Linked DNA regions of Homo sapiens. The protein of the gene in region 1 purifies or fractionates together with the protein of each later gene. This does not show direct contact. Each region holds a gene or a part of one and is shown in the gene's direction. Other genes may lie near its edges.

Evidence for each region. Proteins that work in one complex are often made in the same cells at the same time.
Region 2: the proteins of THRSP (region 1) and EIF4G3 purify together in Homo sapiens (affinity purification with mass spectrometry; one large-scale study listed by BioGRID and IntAct). This does not show direct contact.
Region 3: the proteins of THRSP (region 1) and TGFBRAP1 purify together in Homo sapiens (affinity purification with mass spectrometry; one large-scale study listed by BioGRID and IntAct). This does not show direct contact.
Region 4: the proteins of THRSP (region 1) and GAPVD1 purify together in Homo sapiens (affinity purification with mass spectrometry; one large-scale study listed by BioGRID and IntAct). This does not show direct contact.

The regions. Positions count from the first base shown.
Region 1 is NC_000011.10:78,061,806-78,067,754, forward strand, and holds the start of THRSP (thyroid hormone-inducible hepatic protein), read left to right. Parts: upstream 1-2,055; 5' UTR 2,056-2,076; coding exon 2,077-2,517; 3' UTR 2,518-2,536; intron 2,537-5,853; 3' UTR 5,854-5,949. UniProt on the Homo sapiens protein: Plays a role in the regulation of lipogenesis, especially in lactating mammary gland. Important for the biosynthesis of triglycerides with medium-length fatty acid chains.
Region 2 is NC_000001.11:20,939,398-20,942,897, reverse strand, and holds part of EIF4G3 (eukaryotic translation initiation factor 4 gamma 3), read left to right. Parts: intron 1-567; coding exon 568-1,407; intron 1,408-1,502; coding exon of another isoform or gene 1,503-1,522; exon of another isoform or gene 1,523-1,654; intron 1,655-3,500. UniProt on the Homo sapiens protein: Component of the protein complex eIF4F, which is involved in the recognition of the mRNA cap, ATP-dependent unwinding of 5'-terminal secondary structure and recruitment of mRNA to the ribosome. Functional homolog of EIF4G1.
Region 3 is NC_000002.12:105,270,736-105,274,235, reverse strand, and holds part of TGFBRAP1 (transforming growth factor-beta receptor-associated protein 1), read left to right. Parts: intron 1-545; coding exon 546-692; intron 693-1,221; coding exon 1,222-1,381; intron 1,382-3,500. UniProt on the Homo sapiens protein: Plays a role in the TGF-beta/activin signaling pathway. It associates with inactive heteromeric TGF-beta and activin receptor complexes, mainly through the type II receptor, and is released upon activation of signaling.
Region 4 is NC_000009.12:125,362,826-125,365,266, forward strand, and holds part of GAPVD1 (GTPase-activating protein and VPS9 domain-containing protein 1), read left to right. Parts: 3' UTR 1-2,441. UniProt on the Homo sapiens protein: Acts both as a GTPase-activating protein (GAP) and a guanine nucleotide exchange factor (GEF), and participates in various processes such as endocytosis, insulin receptor internalization or LC2A4/GLUT4 trafficking.

The DNA.
Region 1 (5,949 bases):
AATTAATTTTTTGTAGAGATAGGGTCTCATATGTTGCCCATGCTGGTCTCAAACTACTGGGTTCAAATGATCCTCCTGCCTCAGCCTTCCAAAGTACTGGGATTACAGGCATGAGCCACCATGCCGGGCTGGGAGGCGGAATTTTGTTCAGTCTAAAGATAAGCTTTTTCATAGCTCTGGCTGTAGTGGGAGGGAGCAGAGGAGTGAATGATTGTCAGTTGGGAGGGTGCAGAGTGGGCTCCTGCCCTAGGGTGGAGGTGAGGGTGGCTTAGGTGAGACAACACAGAGGCCCTGTTCAGCCCCACGTCCCCTCCCTGTGCTCCCTCCTCCTCTCTCCTCTCCTGCAGGCGTGGGAGGTATCATCATTCAGCAGATTTCACCAGAGGCAGTGGAGGAGGCAGGTACCTGAGCCAGAATTCAGAATGTCTTATTCTCCACTTGACTCTGCCACTAACTTGTTGTGCAACTTTGGGCCTTTCCCCAGGCCTTCATTTTCTTTTCTTTTCTTTTTCTTTTTTTTTTTTTGAGGCGGAGTCTCGCTATGTTGCCCAGGCTGGAGTGCAGTGGTGCAGCATCATCTCGGCTCACTGCAAGCTCCACCTTCTGAGTTCACGCCATTCTACTGCCTCAGCCTCCCGAGTAGCCGGGACTGCAGGCGCCCACCACCACGCCCGGCTTATTTTTTGTATTTTTAGTAGAGACAGGGTTTCACCACGTTAGCCAAGATGGTCTCGATCTCCTGACCTCGTGATCCACCCGCCTGGGCTTCCCAAAGTGCTGGGATTACAGGCGTGAGCCACTGCGCCCGGCCATTTTCTTAAATATCTAATAAAAAATATATAGCAAATGCAGTTTGTAAACTATGACAATATGACCACGCAAAAGATTATTATCTTCCAAGACTGCTGGTCCAAGGAAAGGTCAGTAATAAAGTGGAAGCATTGTAGCTTATGGAATGACTGGTTAGATTTGGGAGAAGCCTTAGCAATAATCTAGAATCTGCATAGATAATACATCTGAGGATTGGGCTTTGTGGTTTACAAAGCATTTTTTTTCCTCTTTTGATCCCAGCCGCTTGTCTGGACTGATACAAAGCATTTTTATTAGTTTGTCTTATTCAATCCTCACACCACCTCAAATTTACAGAGGATATGGATCTGGTTAACTTGTATGACTATGTAACCTCATGTCAGTCCACAGCACTGCCTGGAGGTGGGTAGAGGTGGTCCTGGGCTGGAATCCCAGCCCCAGTGGGACCTTGAGCAAGTTACTTTAGCTGTCTGCACCTAAATTTCCTCACTGGCAAAACAGGAATACTGGTGGTTCACACCTGCAATTCCAGCACTTTGGGAGGCTGAGGTGGGAGGATTGCTTGAGTCCAGAAGTTCAAAACCAGACTGGGCAACATAGCAAGACCATCTCTACAAAAATTAAATAAATAAAACATTTACAAGGGTTGTGGTGAAGATTAAATGAGATCACTCACGAAAAAGCTCAGCAGACCCTGATGTGCAGTAGGTGCTCAATAAATGTTAGCCAGCAAAAAACAAACAAAAAAAAACTCAGCTAGGAAATTGCAGTACTGGGCTTCTGACTCCAACCTCAGTGTTCCTTGCCCCACATCAAGCTGTTTCACTTCAAATCCTCTCCATTTCACAATGGAGTCACCCCAGGTTGAAGGAGTGAACTGTGCTTTGGAGGGCTGCCCTAAGCAGGCAGCAAAGAGACAGCTTGGTCTCCAGTGACCTGAAAGAATTATTTATTGCCCTGAAGTCCAGTATACCAGTTGCCAAAGGGAAAAGCTTCCTTCCAACTGGCTCAGCAAGCTGACAGAGGAAGAGTCGGGTTCTTGCTGGGGCAGTCATGCAGAGCTGGGATGACAAGTAGAAGGCTGGCAGATCTGTCTCTGGGCAGATGGATCACCTGATACAGATGCTGGGGCCTGAGCCCTGGGATTGGCCCAAAACAGGGCTGTGTTGACCCAACAGCTGGGCATTGGCATCCTGTCAATCTGCCGAGAGCCTAGAAATAGTGCGGGGGCAGTCTGCTGGTCTCATTGTGTCAGAGGAAGCAACCATGCAGGTGCTAACCAAGCGTTACCCCAAGAACTGCCTGCTGACCGTCATGGACCGGTATGCAGCCGAGGTGCACAACATGGAGCAGGTGGTGATGATCCCCAGCCTTCTGCGGGACGTGCAGCTGAGTGGGCCTGGGGGCCAGGCCCAGGCTGAGGCCCCTGATCTCTACACCTACTTCACCATGCTCAAGGCCATCTGTGTGGATGTGGACCATGGGCTGCTGCCGCGGGAGGAGTGGCAGGCCAAGGTGGCAGGCAGCGAAGAGAATGGAACCGCAGAGACAGAGGAAGTCGAGGACGAGAGTGCCTCAGGAGAGCTGGACCTGGAAGCCCAGTTCCACCTGCACTTCTCCAGCCTCCATCACATCCTCATGCACCTCACCGAGAAAGCCCAGGAGGTGACAAGGAAATACCAGGAAATGACGGGACAAGTTTGGTAGACCTTGGACACTAGGGAAGGTAATGGTGGCCATGCTGGTGGGTGTGAGTCTACAAAGGGACATTCCAGGAGAGGAGAGGGGGCAGTGGTGCAACCCACTGGGAGAGGAACAGCCTGACTTTCAGACAGAGCCACTCTTGGGTCAGGGTATTGGGACCACAACCTAGGAGGGCCTAAGACTAGGCCTGTGTTACTATCCTTCTGACCTCAAATTGGCAATTGCAATGAAGTGATATGGAAACAGAGGGAAAAGTGGCCTGTGAGGGCATATCTCATATGCACATATATGTGTTTGTGCATGTGTGCATTTATTAGTATGTGAATGCTTGTAAATGTGTGAATTGAATGAGTGTGTTCTCATCAGTGACTTTGTTAAGAATTTAATTGAAGAGGGGCCAGGCGCGGTGGCTCACACCAAAGCACTTTGGGAGGCCGAGGCGGGCGGATCATGAGGCCAGGAGATTGAGACCATCCTGGCTAACATGGTGAAACCCAATCTCTACTAAAAATACAAAAAATTAGCTGGGCGTGGTGGTGGGTGCCTGTAGTCCCAGCTACTCGGGAGGCTGAGGCAGGAGAATGGCATGAACCTGGGAGGCAGAGGTTGCAGTGAGCTGAGATTGTGCCACTGCACTCCAGCCTAGGTGACAGAGGGAGACTCCATCTCAAAAAAAAAAAAAAAACTTACCTAAGGCATGCACATTGATTTAAGTGAACATTGTGAATTCCATTTGTGTGACAGTGTTTCCCAACATTTTTTCAAGTCACAGAACATGGAAAATTATTATATGGCACATGGGGATACATAGGTGAGGCTGCTTGCAGTACTGCTACAACAGGCTGGGGGTACTCTGACCATCCCAGGTTGGAACCCACCAAACGGGAAGCCGAGGGACCAGTCATGGCACTCTAATCCATTCCAGGCAAACTGGAGTATGCAGACATGCCTGTTGGGAAGCCCTGTTGTATGTACATATGAATATGTGTTCCAGTCTAAGCCTACATGTCTATGCACAGAGGGGCTGGGGTGGTGAGTGTGGATGAGCAGCAAGCTAGACAAGCAGGTGGTGGCAGAGGGTAGGAGGTGGGAAGGGGCCCTAGCATGGTCACCACTAGTTCACTCATGGATAAAGACTAGTATTAATAGAAATTGGACCACAGCACCTGCCAGTTTTGATTCTGTGCCACCTGCCAGCCCTGCTCCCACAAACTGGTCTCATTAGTTGTAAACAACATCCACGTCCATTGCAATCTCAAAACCACCTGATGCAGCTATGTAGGAAAAGATTCTCATCCCCAGTTTACTAGTATGGAAATTGAAGCCAGAGAGGTGAAGTGACTCACCCAAAGTCACACAGTAAGGAGACAAAAGTAAGACTGGCCTCAACTTTGAGCTGAGTGTTCTTTCCATCGTACCCACTGTCTGCCATTTTGTGTTATCTTCATAATCTGTGTGAAGGCTGCTCTGTAATTATGCGGAATAAACATGGGACCCCCAAACACAGAGCCTATGGAGAGCTCTGCTCCAGGCATTTTCTCAGCCATTTTTCCTTCTCCCGCTTCAAACCCAAACTGTCAACCTCAACCCTTCTTCCCTCTCCCGTTGAGGCTCCCTGAGTTGCCTCACAGAGGTTCTTCTTGAATTAGATGGGGCTGTGTCAACAGCTCTGGGTTCACGTTCTGATTCTATCACTAATGAGCTGTGGGGCCTTGGGCAAGCTAATTCATTTCTCTGGGTTTCAGCTTCTTCACTGAATAATAACAGTGGTTGTAAAACTAACAACTGGCATTTGAATAGTTTTAAGATCACTTTGCATATCCATTATCTAATGGAATTATCATCCCCCCCCACCTTTTTAAATTTTGAGACGGAGTCTCACCCTGTCCCCCAGGTTGGAGTGCAATGTGCAATCTCAGCTCACTGCCACCTCCACCTCCCAGGTTCAAGAGATTTTCCTCAGCTTCCAAAGTAGCTGGGATTACAGGCGTGTGCCACCACACCCAGCTAATTTTTTTAAAATCTTTAGTAGAGACCGGGTTTCACCATGTTGGCCAGGCTGGTCTTGAACTCCTGACCTCGTGATCCACCTGCCTCGGCCTCCCGAAGTGCTGGGATTACAGGCATGAGCCACCGCGCCCAGCCTATCATTCCCTTTTGCAGATGAGAAAACTGGAGGCCTGAGAAGTAAAATGAGTCCAAGTTTACTCAGTAAATAACAGCCAAGATGTGAACCCTGGCCTAATTAGTCTAATTCTTTTCCTCTACAGTGGTATTCCTTAGAGCCTTAGACTTTTGCAGAGTGGGCTCAAAGTGGGAACTGGGCATGGCAGAGTGGGTAGAAACCACACTCTGACTCACTCAGTTGCTTCAAAGGCCAGAGCAGCAACTCTACGCCATAACGTTTCAACACACCCTAACCTGATTTTCATTCAGAGGCAATATGGTATAGCAACAGTTAAAAATCTGGGCTCTTGTTCTGGCTCTTCCATTGACTTCTGTATTATCCTAGACAACTTTTTTTTTGAGATGGAGTCTCACCCTATTGCCAGGCTGGAGTGCAGTGGCGCGATCTCAGCTCACTGCAACCTCCACCTCCCGATTCAAGCAATTCTCCTGCCTCAGCCACCCGAGTAGTTGGGACTACAGGTGCACGCCACTACACCCAGCTAATTTTTTGTATTTTTAGTAGAGATGGGGTTTCACCATGTTGGCCAAGATGGTCTCAATCTCCTGACCTTGTGATCCTCCCCGCTCGGCTTCCCAAAGTGCTGGGATTACAGGCGTGAGCCACCGCACCCAACCTTTTTTTTTTTTTTGAGATGGAGTCTTGCTCTTGTCACCCAGGCTGGAGTGCAGTGGCGCCACCTTGGCTCACTACAACCTCTGCCTCCCAGATTCAAGCAAGTCTCCTGCCTCAGCCTCCCGAGTAGCTGGGATTACAGGCTCACGCCACCATGCCTGGCTAATTTTTGTACTTTTAGTAGAGACAGGGTTTCACCATGTTGGCCAGGCTGATCTCGAACTCCTGACCTCAAATGATCCACCCACCTTGGCCTCCCAAAGTGCTGGGATTACAGGCGTGAGCCACCACGCCCGGCCCTAGACAACTTATCTTACCTTTCTGTATCTGTTTCCCTGTTAGTAAAATATAGCAGAGAAATCAAATGAGTTATTCCAGCTCTGACAACCTAGGATTCTCCTTACAGTGCTGAGGCACTGCCAGTTTTCCAACAGCAACATCAGCATTGTTCTTCCTGCTTCAATGGGCATGTGACAGTATCTTGGTTGTTTGAATTGATACTGACTTGGCCTTTTAAAAATTTCTTCACTCCACAGATCCCTTCACATGATAGAAGACAGACTCTTTGATGAGGTCGGCGGAGCAGTTCACTAGCCAATGATGAGAGCAGAAAGGCCTAGACCTGCAGCCAG
Region 2 (3,500 bases), on another chromosome or scaffold:
AGTAAATTTCATTAAATAAAATGTGATGCTTTATCTTGAGTTTTTATACAAGTAATACTTTTTAAAATAAAAATTATCTCCCCAAATACAAAAATATATAGAATAAAAAATAACATCAGTCCCTTTATAATAATTTAATTTTTAATTGTTTGCCCTTGTACTGTTTTGCCACTGTAATATATCCTTGGAAAAAAAGTTTTTTAGGGAACGAGAAGTGGTAGAAATGAAGGTTTTCCTACCTTAAAGAAAAGCCTCACTCTTAAACCAAGAATGGTTTAGCCTCAGTTTTGGTGAGCTTTTCAGTTGTATTCTTGATATATAATTTTTTGGTGAATAGATTCCTTCTCTTACTCCAAAACAGACTTTATGTATTGGATACCAAGTAAATAGTAGGTTTAAGTAAAAAAAGAAAAGAGACAATGTTTTTGGCATACCAGAATAAGTCTAATATATTGGTCTCTGTTCTGTTACCTGTAATTTAGGGTAAGACATTGAAAGAATTGGCCCAAGGCAATATGTAGTCTCTGATCCAAGAATTATTCTTAAAACTTATTTTTTTTTCCCCAGAGGAGAAGCCAAAACCAGATCCAGTGTTAAAGTCTCCTTCCCCAGTCCTTAGGCTAGTCCTCAGTGGAGAGAAGAAAGAACAAGAAGGCCAGACATCTGAAACTACTGCAATAGTATCCATAGCAGAGCTTCCTCTGCCTCCATCACCTACCACTGTTTCTTCTGTTGCTCGAAGTACAATTGCAGCCCCCACCTCTTCTGCTCTTAGTAGCCAACCAATATTCACCACTGCTATAGATGACAGATGTGAACTCTCATCCCCAAGAGAAGACACAATTCCTATACCCAGCCTCACATCTTGCACAGAAACATCAGACCCTTTACCAACAAATGAAAATGATGATGATATATGCAAGAAACCCTGTAGTGTAGCACCTAATGATATTCCACTGGTTTCTAGTACTAACCTAATTAATGAAATAAATGGAGTTAGCGAAAAATTATCAGCCACGGAGAGCATTGTGGAAATAGTAAAACAGGAAGTATTGCCATTGACTCTTGAATTGGAGATTCTCGAAAATCCCCCAGAAGAAATGAAACTGGAGTGTATCCCAGCTCCCATCACCCCTTCCACAGTTCCTTCCTTTCCTCCAACTCCTCCAACTCCTCCAGCTTCTCCTCCTCACACTCCAGTCATTGTTCCTGCTGCTGCCACTACTGTTAGTTCTCCGAGTGCTGCCATCACAGTCCAGAGAGTCCTAGAGGAGGACGAGAGCATAAGAACTTGCCTTAGTGAAGATGCAAAAGAGATTCAGAACAAAATAGAGGTAGAAGCAGATGGGCAAACAGAAGAGATTTTGGATTCTCAAAACTTAAATTCAAGAAGGAGCCCTGTCCCAGGTAAGCCATTCTGCCATTAATCTCGTGCTTGCTGAACATGAAGAAGAGGCAGTGTTTGAGTTATTTTTTAATTGGCTACTTTCCTTGACTTCCAGAAACATCGAATGAATGCTGAAATTCCTAGTCTGGTTTCTTCAGTGGTGTGTTTGTGTTTTAGTACAACCTGCAAAAGAGTTACTCCATTGTCTAAAAATGCAAATGAGAATTTCCAAATATACAAAATGCCTCCAAGGTATATGTCACGAAACATGTTGGGTTTTGTTGTTGTTGTTGTTGCTATTGCCTCATTCATATGAATTGGTTTCTCAATGCTTAATTTTGCTGCTTTGGGGCTAGAAAACAAAAAACCAGGATGGTCTATAGTCCCTAATTCTGTCTTCCTAGAATTTTAAAACCCAGTCAATCCTAAAGGAACTCTTCTATGCATGACCAGTTTTTAAATCTTGGATGTAGGAAGATAGCAATCAGAACATCAAAGGTTTATAACTATTTTTGAAAATATAATGCTGTTGTTGATTCACTTGCAGGTAAGCTTAACGTTCTCTCACTTTGCCTTTTGAAACAGTTTTATTTTTTGTGTACATTTTTACATGGTCATTAATATCCTTGGAGTATTATATTCTTCCCAGTTCAAATTATTTCTTTTTAATGTAGCATCACCTGGGACCTTAGGAACTAACCATTGGGTTATTGTAAGTTTAATCAAAAGTTATCTGAGGCTTATCAGCTATTCTAGGATAAGTTAGCCCATAGGAATATTGAAGTTTTGGCTTTGAACAATTCAGCACAGCCTATCTTCTGCAACATTGCCCTATGCTATATAATTTCCTTTCTCTGTGCCTGTCAGATTAAGTAATGCGTATGTAAATTGGGCTTTTTGATAAATGAGTGCTCCTCCAGCAGTTGATCCTTGACATGCAGTGAATAGGTTTTGGTCACCATCATCCTCAGTATTTTTGTCTATTTTGAGGTGTATAATAAGGAAATTTGACAAACCCAAAAGCTGATCCCTACTTTTGAGATGTGGCTTTTCTACCCAGCTCAGTTCTTGAGACAATTTCCTCATCAGTGTCTGTAAGAGGTGTCTGGCCTTTTGGAACTGCAGAACATCTTGTAGAACACCATGAGCCAGCACAGGAAAGAAAACAATGCAAGGCAATTGGAACAGTGAGAAATTTTTCATAAATCTTTGTAAATTACCTGTTTCCTCAACTATCTGGCTTCCATTGACATCAGTATTCATAGTGCCATCACTGTTTTAGGAAACTTGTTCCTTGGTGGAGAGATGACCTTAGACCTTGTTTTGTCAGTTACCCTTTAGAAAAACAGCCTTGGGGCCGGGTGCAGTGGCTCATGCCTGTAATCCCTGCACTTTGGGAGGCCGAGGTAGGTGGATTGCCTGAGCTCAGGAGTTCGAGACCAGCCTTGGCAACACAGTGAAACCCCATCTCCACTGACATACAAAAAAAATAGCCAGGCATGGCAGTGTGGGCCTGTAGTCCCAGCTACTCGGGAGGCTGAGGCAGGAGAATTGCTTGAACCTGGGAGGCAGAGGTTGCAGTGAGCCAAGATCGTGCCGCCACACTCCAGCCTGGGCAACAGATCGAGACTCCATCTCAAAAAAAAAAAAAAAAAAAAAAAAACTAAACAACTTGGTGTTGGTGTGGCTGTAGGTAAATGCCCTCCGAAGAAACACGTGTTTGTTGGAGAACAGTAATTTGTTTGACACTTCAATGTTCATTTTCATTTGTAGTGATACGATAGTTACAAAAATGAGAGAAACTAATGAACAAAAATGTTTTTAAAATGTAAAAGCAAAGAAAAACAAAACAATCATAGGAAATATAAGTTGAAGATACAAACCATACCTCAGAATTGAAATAAGTGTAAAGTGAAAAGACCATGCATCAAAATCATACTTCACTCATTTCTGACATATATTCTTTTTTTAAACATCAGTTTGCCACTTAGATGACCTGATATTGCAAGACAGTGCCCAGGGATGGATGGGCAAACAGAATTTTGGTTTAAATAATGTTCATACCATGGTACATTTGTTTGAAATGCAGATGCTCTCAATATTAGTATTGTGA
Region 3 (3,500 bases), on another chromosome or scaffold:
AGGAAGGCAGCCCGGAAACTTACTCAGGGACTGGAAGCTCAGATCTCAGATTAACCATCTATCATAAATAACCCAGAGTAGATAATCCATGTTCAGAGAAGTGAGTTTACTGTACAGAAATTTCAGCACTTTTGATATCTTTTCACATACTGTTCTGCAACTGGCTATCCCTGTTCTTGGATGATCTTAATGTTATTATTATAGGTTGTCAAAATCTGTCACCAGTAAATGCTTTGTTCTTCAGTTTCCAATTTGCATGGGGTGTGTGAGGAGGACTTCAGGGTATAGGCTGGCTTTTCTATCTTGATTTTTTGCCCTCTGGCCTTTGACAGTGCTTCATGCTGGGCTGTTTTTCTCCATAATTATATTTTTTAAGCCACTGTATTGAGATATGATTGACATACAAAAAGCTGTGCATACATAATAATTTAATCATATTTTAAGTGATGATTTTATCCAAAGCTTGAATGTGCAATGACCAAAATAAAGTTAAAGGAAAGGTGGGTTTGGGAAGCACAGTCACTGTATTGTCGCTCCTCTTTCAGGTCGGAGTTCAGGTTTTCACCAAGAGACCTTTGGATGAACAGCAGAAGAACAGTTTTAATCCAGACGACATTATCAATTGCCTTAAAAAATACCCTAAAGCCCTTGTGAAGTATCTGGAACATCTTGTGATAGACAAGAGACTGCAGGTGAGCACTGCAGAAGTTAGACTAAAGAGTGTGGGCTGGAGAGACGGAATTGAACTAGAACACTTTTTGGCATGTGATTCTGTGTAATGTCTGTTCCCTGGGTGATCCATCCGTACTTGTTGATGGTCTGATGGCGGCCTTGAGGCTTGCGGAAAGAGACCTGGAGCAATAGGTAGCTTTATTTTTTTCTCCGTCCGTCTCACACCCACTCAGCTTTTATTTTTCCTCTCTTTTCCTTCTTTGTTATTATCCTTAAAGGAAATAAAGGGAGCTATACCTTTTTGTAGGTTATCTAAATTCTGTGGCCCTTACTTCTTGAAATAAGAGGTGACATTTTGTTCTATTCCCCATAGATGGTAAACTCATCTCAGTATCATGGTTTCTGAGAGGGTTTCGATCCAGCAAGTGAGCATCTGCCCAGCTCATGTCAGTGCAGCCGCGGTCTCCAAGCCCTGGCTGACAGGGGAGAGCTTTGACTTTCCCACTTGAAAACACTGTCTGTCTGCTTGGCTCCCCCTGTTTCCTGCAGAAAGAAGAGTATCACACCCACTTAGCTGTGCTGTACCTGGAAGAGGTGCTGCTGCAGAGGGCCTCCGCCAGTGGCAAGGGTGCAGAGGCCACCGAGACGCAGGCCAAGCTGCGGCGGCTGCTCCAGAAATCTGATTTATACCGAGTCCACTTTCTTCTCGGTGAGGATGATCTCAGTATTGTCTCCCTTTGGAAAAAACTCATATCAAGCGGGTGGGAGGAAGCAGAGAGAAGGGCTTTGGCACAGCTGCTGGTTGATTGCACAGGGTGATTCTTTGAGCCTCTTTTTTTAAAAAGATTTTTTTAAATGAAGACAGGGTGTCGCTTTGTCACCCAGGCTGGTCTCAAACTCATGGCCTCAAGTGATCTTCCTGCTTCTGCCTCCTAAGGTGCTGGGATTATAGGCGTGAGCCACCACACTCAGCCCTTGAGCCTCTTTTGACAGAGTCAGCCTCCTTGCAGGGAGAAATAAGGCTTCTCGTGCCTCTAGAGATGGACCGTGCCTCTAGATGGACGGTGCCCTTTGATTGATGATGTTGGTGCTGCCCTGGTAGACTTTAGACGTCTGTGTGTCTCTTGACACACAGTGTCTTTATTCAATGTCAAAGCACTGAGTCATAGTTCCCTCTGACGGCTTCAGTCTCTGATCAAGGCTTTGCAGTAGGCACTGCCCCCAGCGACCCATTCCCGAGCTGCTCAAGGCTCAGGTCCCTCGAGCTCTAAGCAAGAAGGTTATGCAGGTGTCTTGGAGGGCATTTGGGTTTCTGTTCCTCAGGGGTACAGAGGCCACAGTTTCTGTATTGTGTAAAGTTCCACAGCGCAGCATGGTGCTTGCAACTGGTAGAATTAACTAGTTTCTTGCCACATTAAGAATTTCTGCATTTATACTCACTGGGGTTAGTGATGTGTTTTTCTTTAATGGCCTTTAATACCATTTTTTGACCAATAACAAAGCATATCTAACACACGTGTTGTCTCCATAAAGCACATCACAACCTTCCAGAGCTTAGGAGCGCTAGGCAGCACTTCAGCACTACACTGAAATCACCAACAAGAAGCACCAAAATGCAAAAAAGCATGGCAATAAATAGCCCGTGAAAAGGAAACGTGTAGCTAGTACGACAGCTGAAGCAAGGAAGGAGGGCGCTCCTTCTTTGGCCTCAGCTCTGCATCAGGCTCTGTGCTTGTCGTAAATGACCTTGAAGCTGCTGCGAGTGTTGATTGGGAGGTTACAAATAAATTTCAGCGAGTAGATGACTTTGTAAATACAGAATCCACAAATAATGAGGATTGACTAGATATGCCCAGCATAGGTTGAAACGCTGAGGCTGCCTTATGACACAGTTTCCACAACAACCCTGTGAAGTGAGGCCTGTTTTTCCTCCATTTTTACAGAAGAGTGCACTGAAGCCCAGAGAGGTTACCCCGCTTGCCACAGGTCACACAGCCCACGAGCAGTAGAGCCAGAACACAGGTGTGGGTTGGTATTTCATGAAACCAGCAAACACTAGTTCTGGCTTGTACCTGCACCTACATTAGGACTTTCTGTGGCGATCCGCTGTGCAATCTCTGTTCACTCACAGCCACCGTCCCTGACTGATCAGTGCCAGGGTGTCCCAGCTATTGAATTTTTACTCACTCCTGACTTATTCTTTTTGCTTTACAAATCTCCTTATAAAACTCTCAGGCCAGCCACAAGTGTGTGGTTCAATGTTTGCATTCCGCCAGCTTTTCTGAGTATGTAGAGTGTGTCACTGTGCATTGAGGATACAAAGATGGATGAGACTTGGTCCTGGTCCTCAGAGACTCAGAGTTTAATTGGAATGCAGTTAAGGGCAGGTACAGTTCTAGAAGGGCCGAGGAACCCACGAGCTGTGCCTTGGGGTGGAGGGGTCAGAGGCAGCCTCCCGGAAGAGGCCCTATATGAGCAGTCATTAGGTATAAGCCTGGGCTTGCAGGTAGCACAGGGGAGCTTTCAGGCAATGGGGGTATCCCCCGCAGCACTGTGGGAGGAGCACTGGAAATCCAAACACTGATTTTGTATCCCTTCTTAGTTAGATGACTTGGGGAAATGTCAGTCTAGGGAAGTTGTAAAAACGATTCCAGCCCAACCTATCCACTCGGGGTGGCTGTGGGAGTCAAATATAAATGAGATGATAGATGTGGAAGTGTAAATCACCACAGTGATCTTTTCTTAACTGTCTTTGTACCTCACCCAGGGTCTTAACTATGGCAGCCACTTAGTAATTATTTGTTGGCCTTCCACTGTGAGGATGAAGG
Region 4 (2,441 bases), on another chromosome or scaffold:
GGCTGAAGATTGTTTTGTATGATACTGCACAGCATCAGGCATTTTAAAGCAGATCTTTACTAAACAGGTTAATGAGCTAACAAGCAGGTTCTCTCGTCTTTGGGCTCTTTCCTTTCTGAGTTGCATATTCTATTTTCTTGTCCCCAAGTAGAGACTAGTACTACAAAAAGGGACCACATTTTTCAAGTATTTCTAAGTATAAAAAACAAAACAAAAATCTCTTAGGAAATGTCTAGACCTCCATTCTTGGATTCCCTTTCTTTCCTTTTATTTTAAAAAAGAACAGTACCCCTCTTTTAAGATGCTGTCTTACATTAATGAGCATCTAATGGAAAGAAGGTATGAGTTGCACTGAGGATTAGAATAGTGGTGCGTTAGTGGCATTATCTATAAATACACTCACCTAAATTGAAAGCTAAGAAGGAAATGTAAATATAATATATATTTATATTTGATGTAATATGGACATCTGCAGATTCTAATAAACAAGGACTATTGCTGATAGTAGGCTGTGACATACTGTCTTGTGAAATGGTTTCCTTGACAAAATTTAAGCTGAGCTTAAAAGCAAAAAACAAAAAGTACACAGAAATATTTATTAAAATGTAATACAGTTTATTGAACTTTCTAGGTATGGAGTTTGATGGACAGGGCTGCCTTTAATGAGTGTGAAGGTCACTAAGTCACTTAGACATCTCACCGTGGAAGTTTGTGAGCCTGCATTAGGAGATAGACTGATTACCATACATGACATAAAAAGGAACAGTGGATAGCTCATACTTTATGGTGGTTCTTCTCCTCCGAAATAATATACTGCAGAAATCCCAGACAGAGCTCCTTACAAACCTTTAATTGTAATATATTTTTGATGATTATTCACATTGAATGCACAGACCAAGAATTCAGTGAATGTCATTTTTTAAAAAACTAATTTGTATTGTCTGCTCTAGTGATACAAGTTTTACTAGTGATAAACTATTTTAATCAACCATACTATTCTTATGGAAAAAAATATCTATTTTGGCAGGTTTCTGTGCCTTTATTTCCCTCTTCTGAAAAAAAGTCTGTGTTTTCATAGTTTGGTTTGCATTGTATATCAATAATTAATCAGGAATGGGTTTTGGTGCCTGAAAAATTGGCCATGGAGGCACACCAAAGCTTCAAGCACAAGTCTTGTACATGGGCCATCACTGTCTGGTTTCACTTCGTGTGTTTCCTAAACACATTTAGCTGCTTTTTTAACAAACTCAGCCCCATACTTGAGTCCCTTGTTGTTGGGAGCATTTCCAGGCATCTTTTAAGGGAACTGTGACAAACAGCCTCGGGCAGATGAACACGGAGGCTCTCTGTTGTCTGTCTCTGAGATCTTTGTGTCTGGGAATGCCTAAAGATTTTATTTTTTTTTCTTTGTTTTTATTTTATTTTATTTTATTTTTTTGAGACAGAGTCTCACCCTGTTGCCCAGGCTGGAGTGCAATGGTGCGATCTTGGCTCACTGCAACCTCCACCTCCCAGTTCAAGTGATTCCCCTGCCTCAGCCTCGCGAGTAGCTAGGACTACAGGCGCATGTCACCAAGCCCGGCTAATTTTTGTATTTTTAGTAGAAACGGGGTTTCACCATGTTGGCCAGGATGATCCTCAATCTCCTGACCTCGTGATCCACCCGCCTTGGCCTCCCAAAGTGCGGGATTACAAGCGTGAACCACCCTGCCCAGCCAGAAACTAGATTTTCTTTATGCCTCCACCCCTTCTTATTCATTTACTTTACAATACCAAAATAACAAATTGCATAGGAGTGTGGGATGTGGTTTCTGCCTTCTAGAGAGAGATCAGAATTAAACTAGTACTATGAAATGTCCTTTTGAATGTTAGGTCAAGAAATCCATGTACAGAGTCGTGCACTTCATTGGCTGTAACTGTCAAACTTGCCTTGTATTAGAAGTTAAATCCCATCGTAAATACATCACGAGGCCAGCTGTGTGATTTCTGAGACCTAGATGAGAGTCCATTTACTTCAGCCTTTGATTCAGTAAATGTTAAGCAGCAGAAGACTTCGAATGGTTGAAATTCATTGTTACAGGATTTAACTCATAAACCAATGAGAGATTTTTTTTTTCTCTGCAATGGTTGCTAAGTCTATTCCATGTTAACACTGTGGAAATAAATATGAAGATGTGGACATTGCATCGGGGCTCTTTTCTGTGGAAGAGAAGGTGGTGGGATTGGGGTGAAGGGCTACACTGGAGGCAGGAGATAGGGCTGTGCTGTGTTGGAGCCGGGGCTGAGGGTAGACCCCCCAGAGATTTGACATCTGTGACACCTGTGAAATGGGTTCGGGTGCTCATGACTCCATAGCTGGCGGAGGAGCACAGCACAGCTGTTGCAGGGGCAGCTAAGGTTTCCTCTGAAAATCTGTCAGGAGCAAGGACTACTTTGGCATT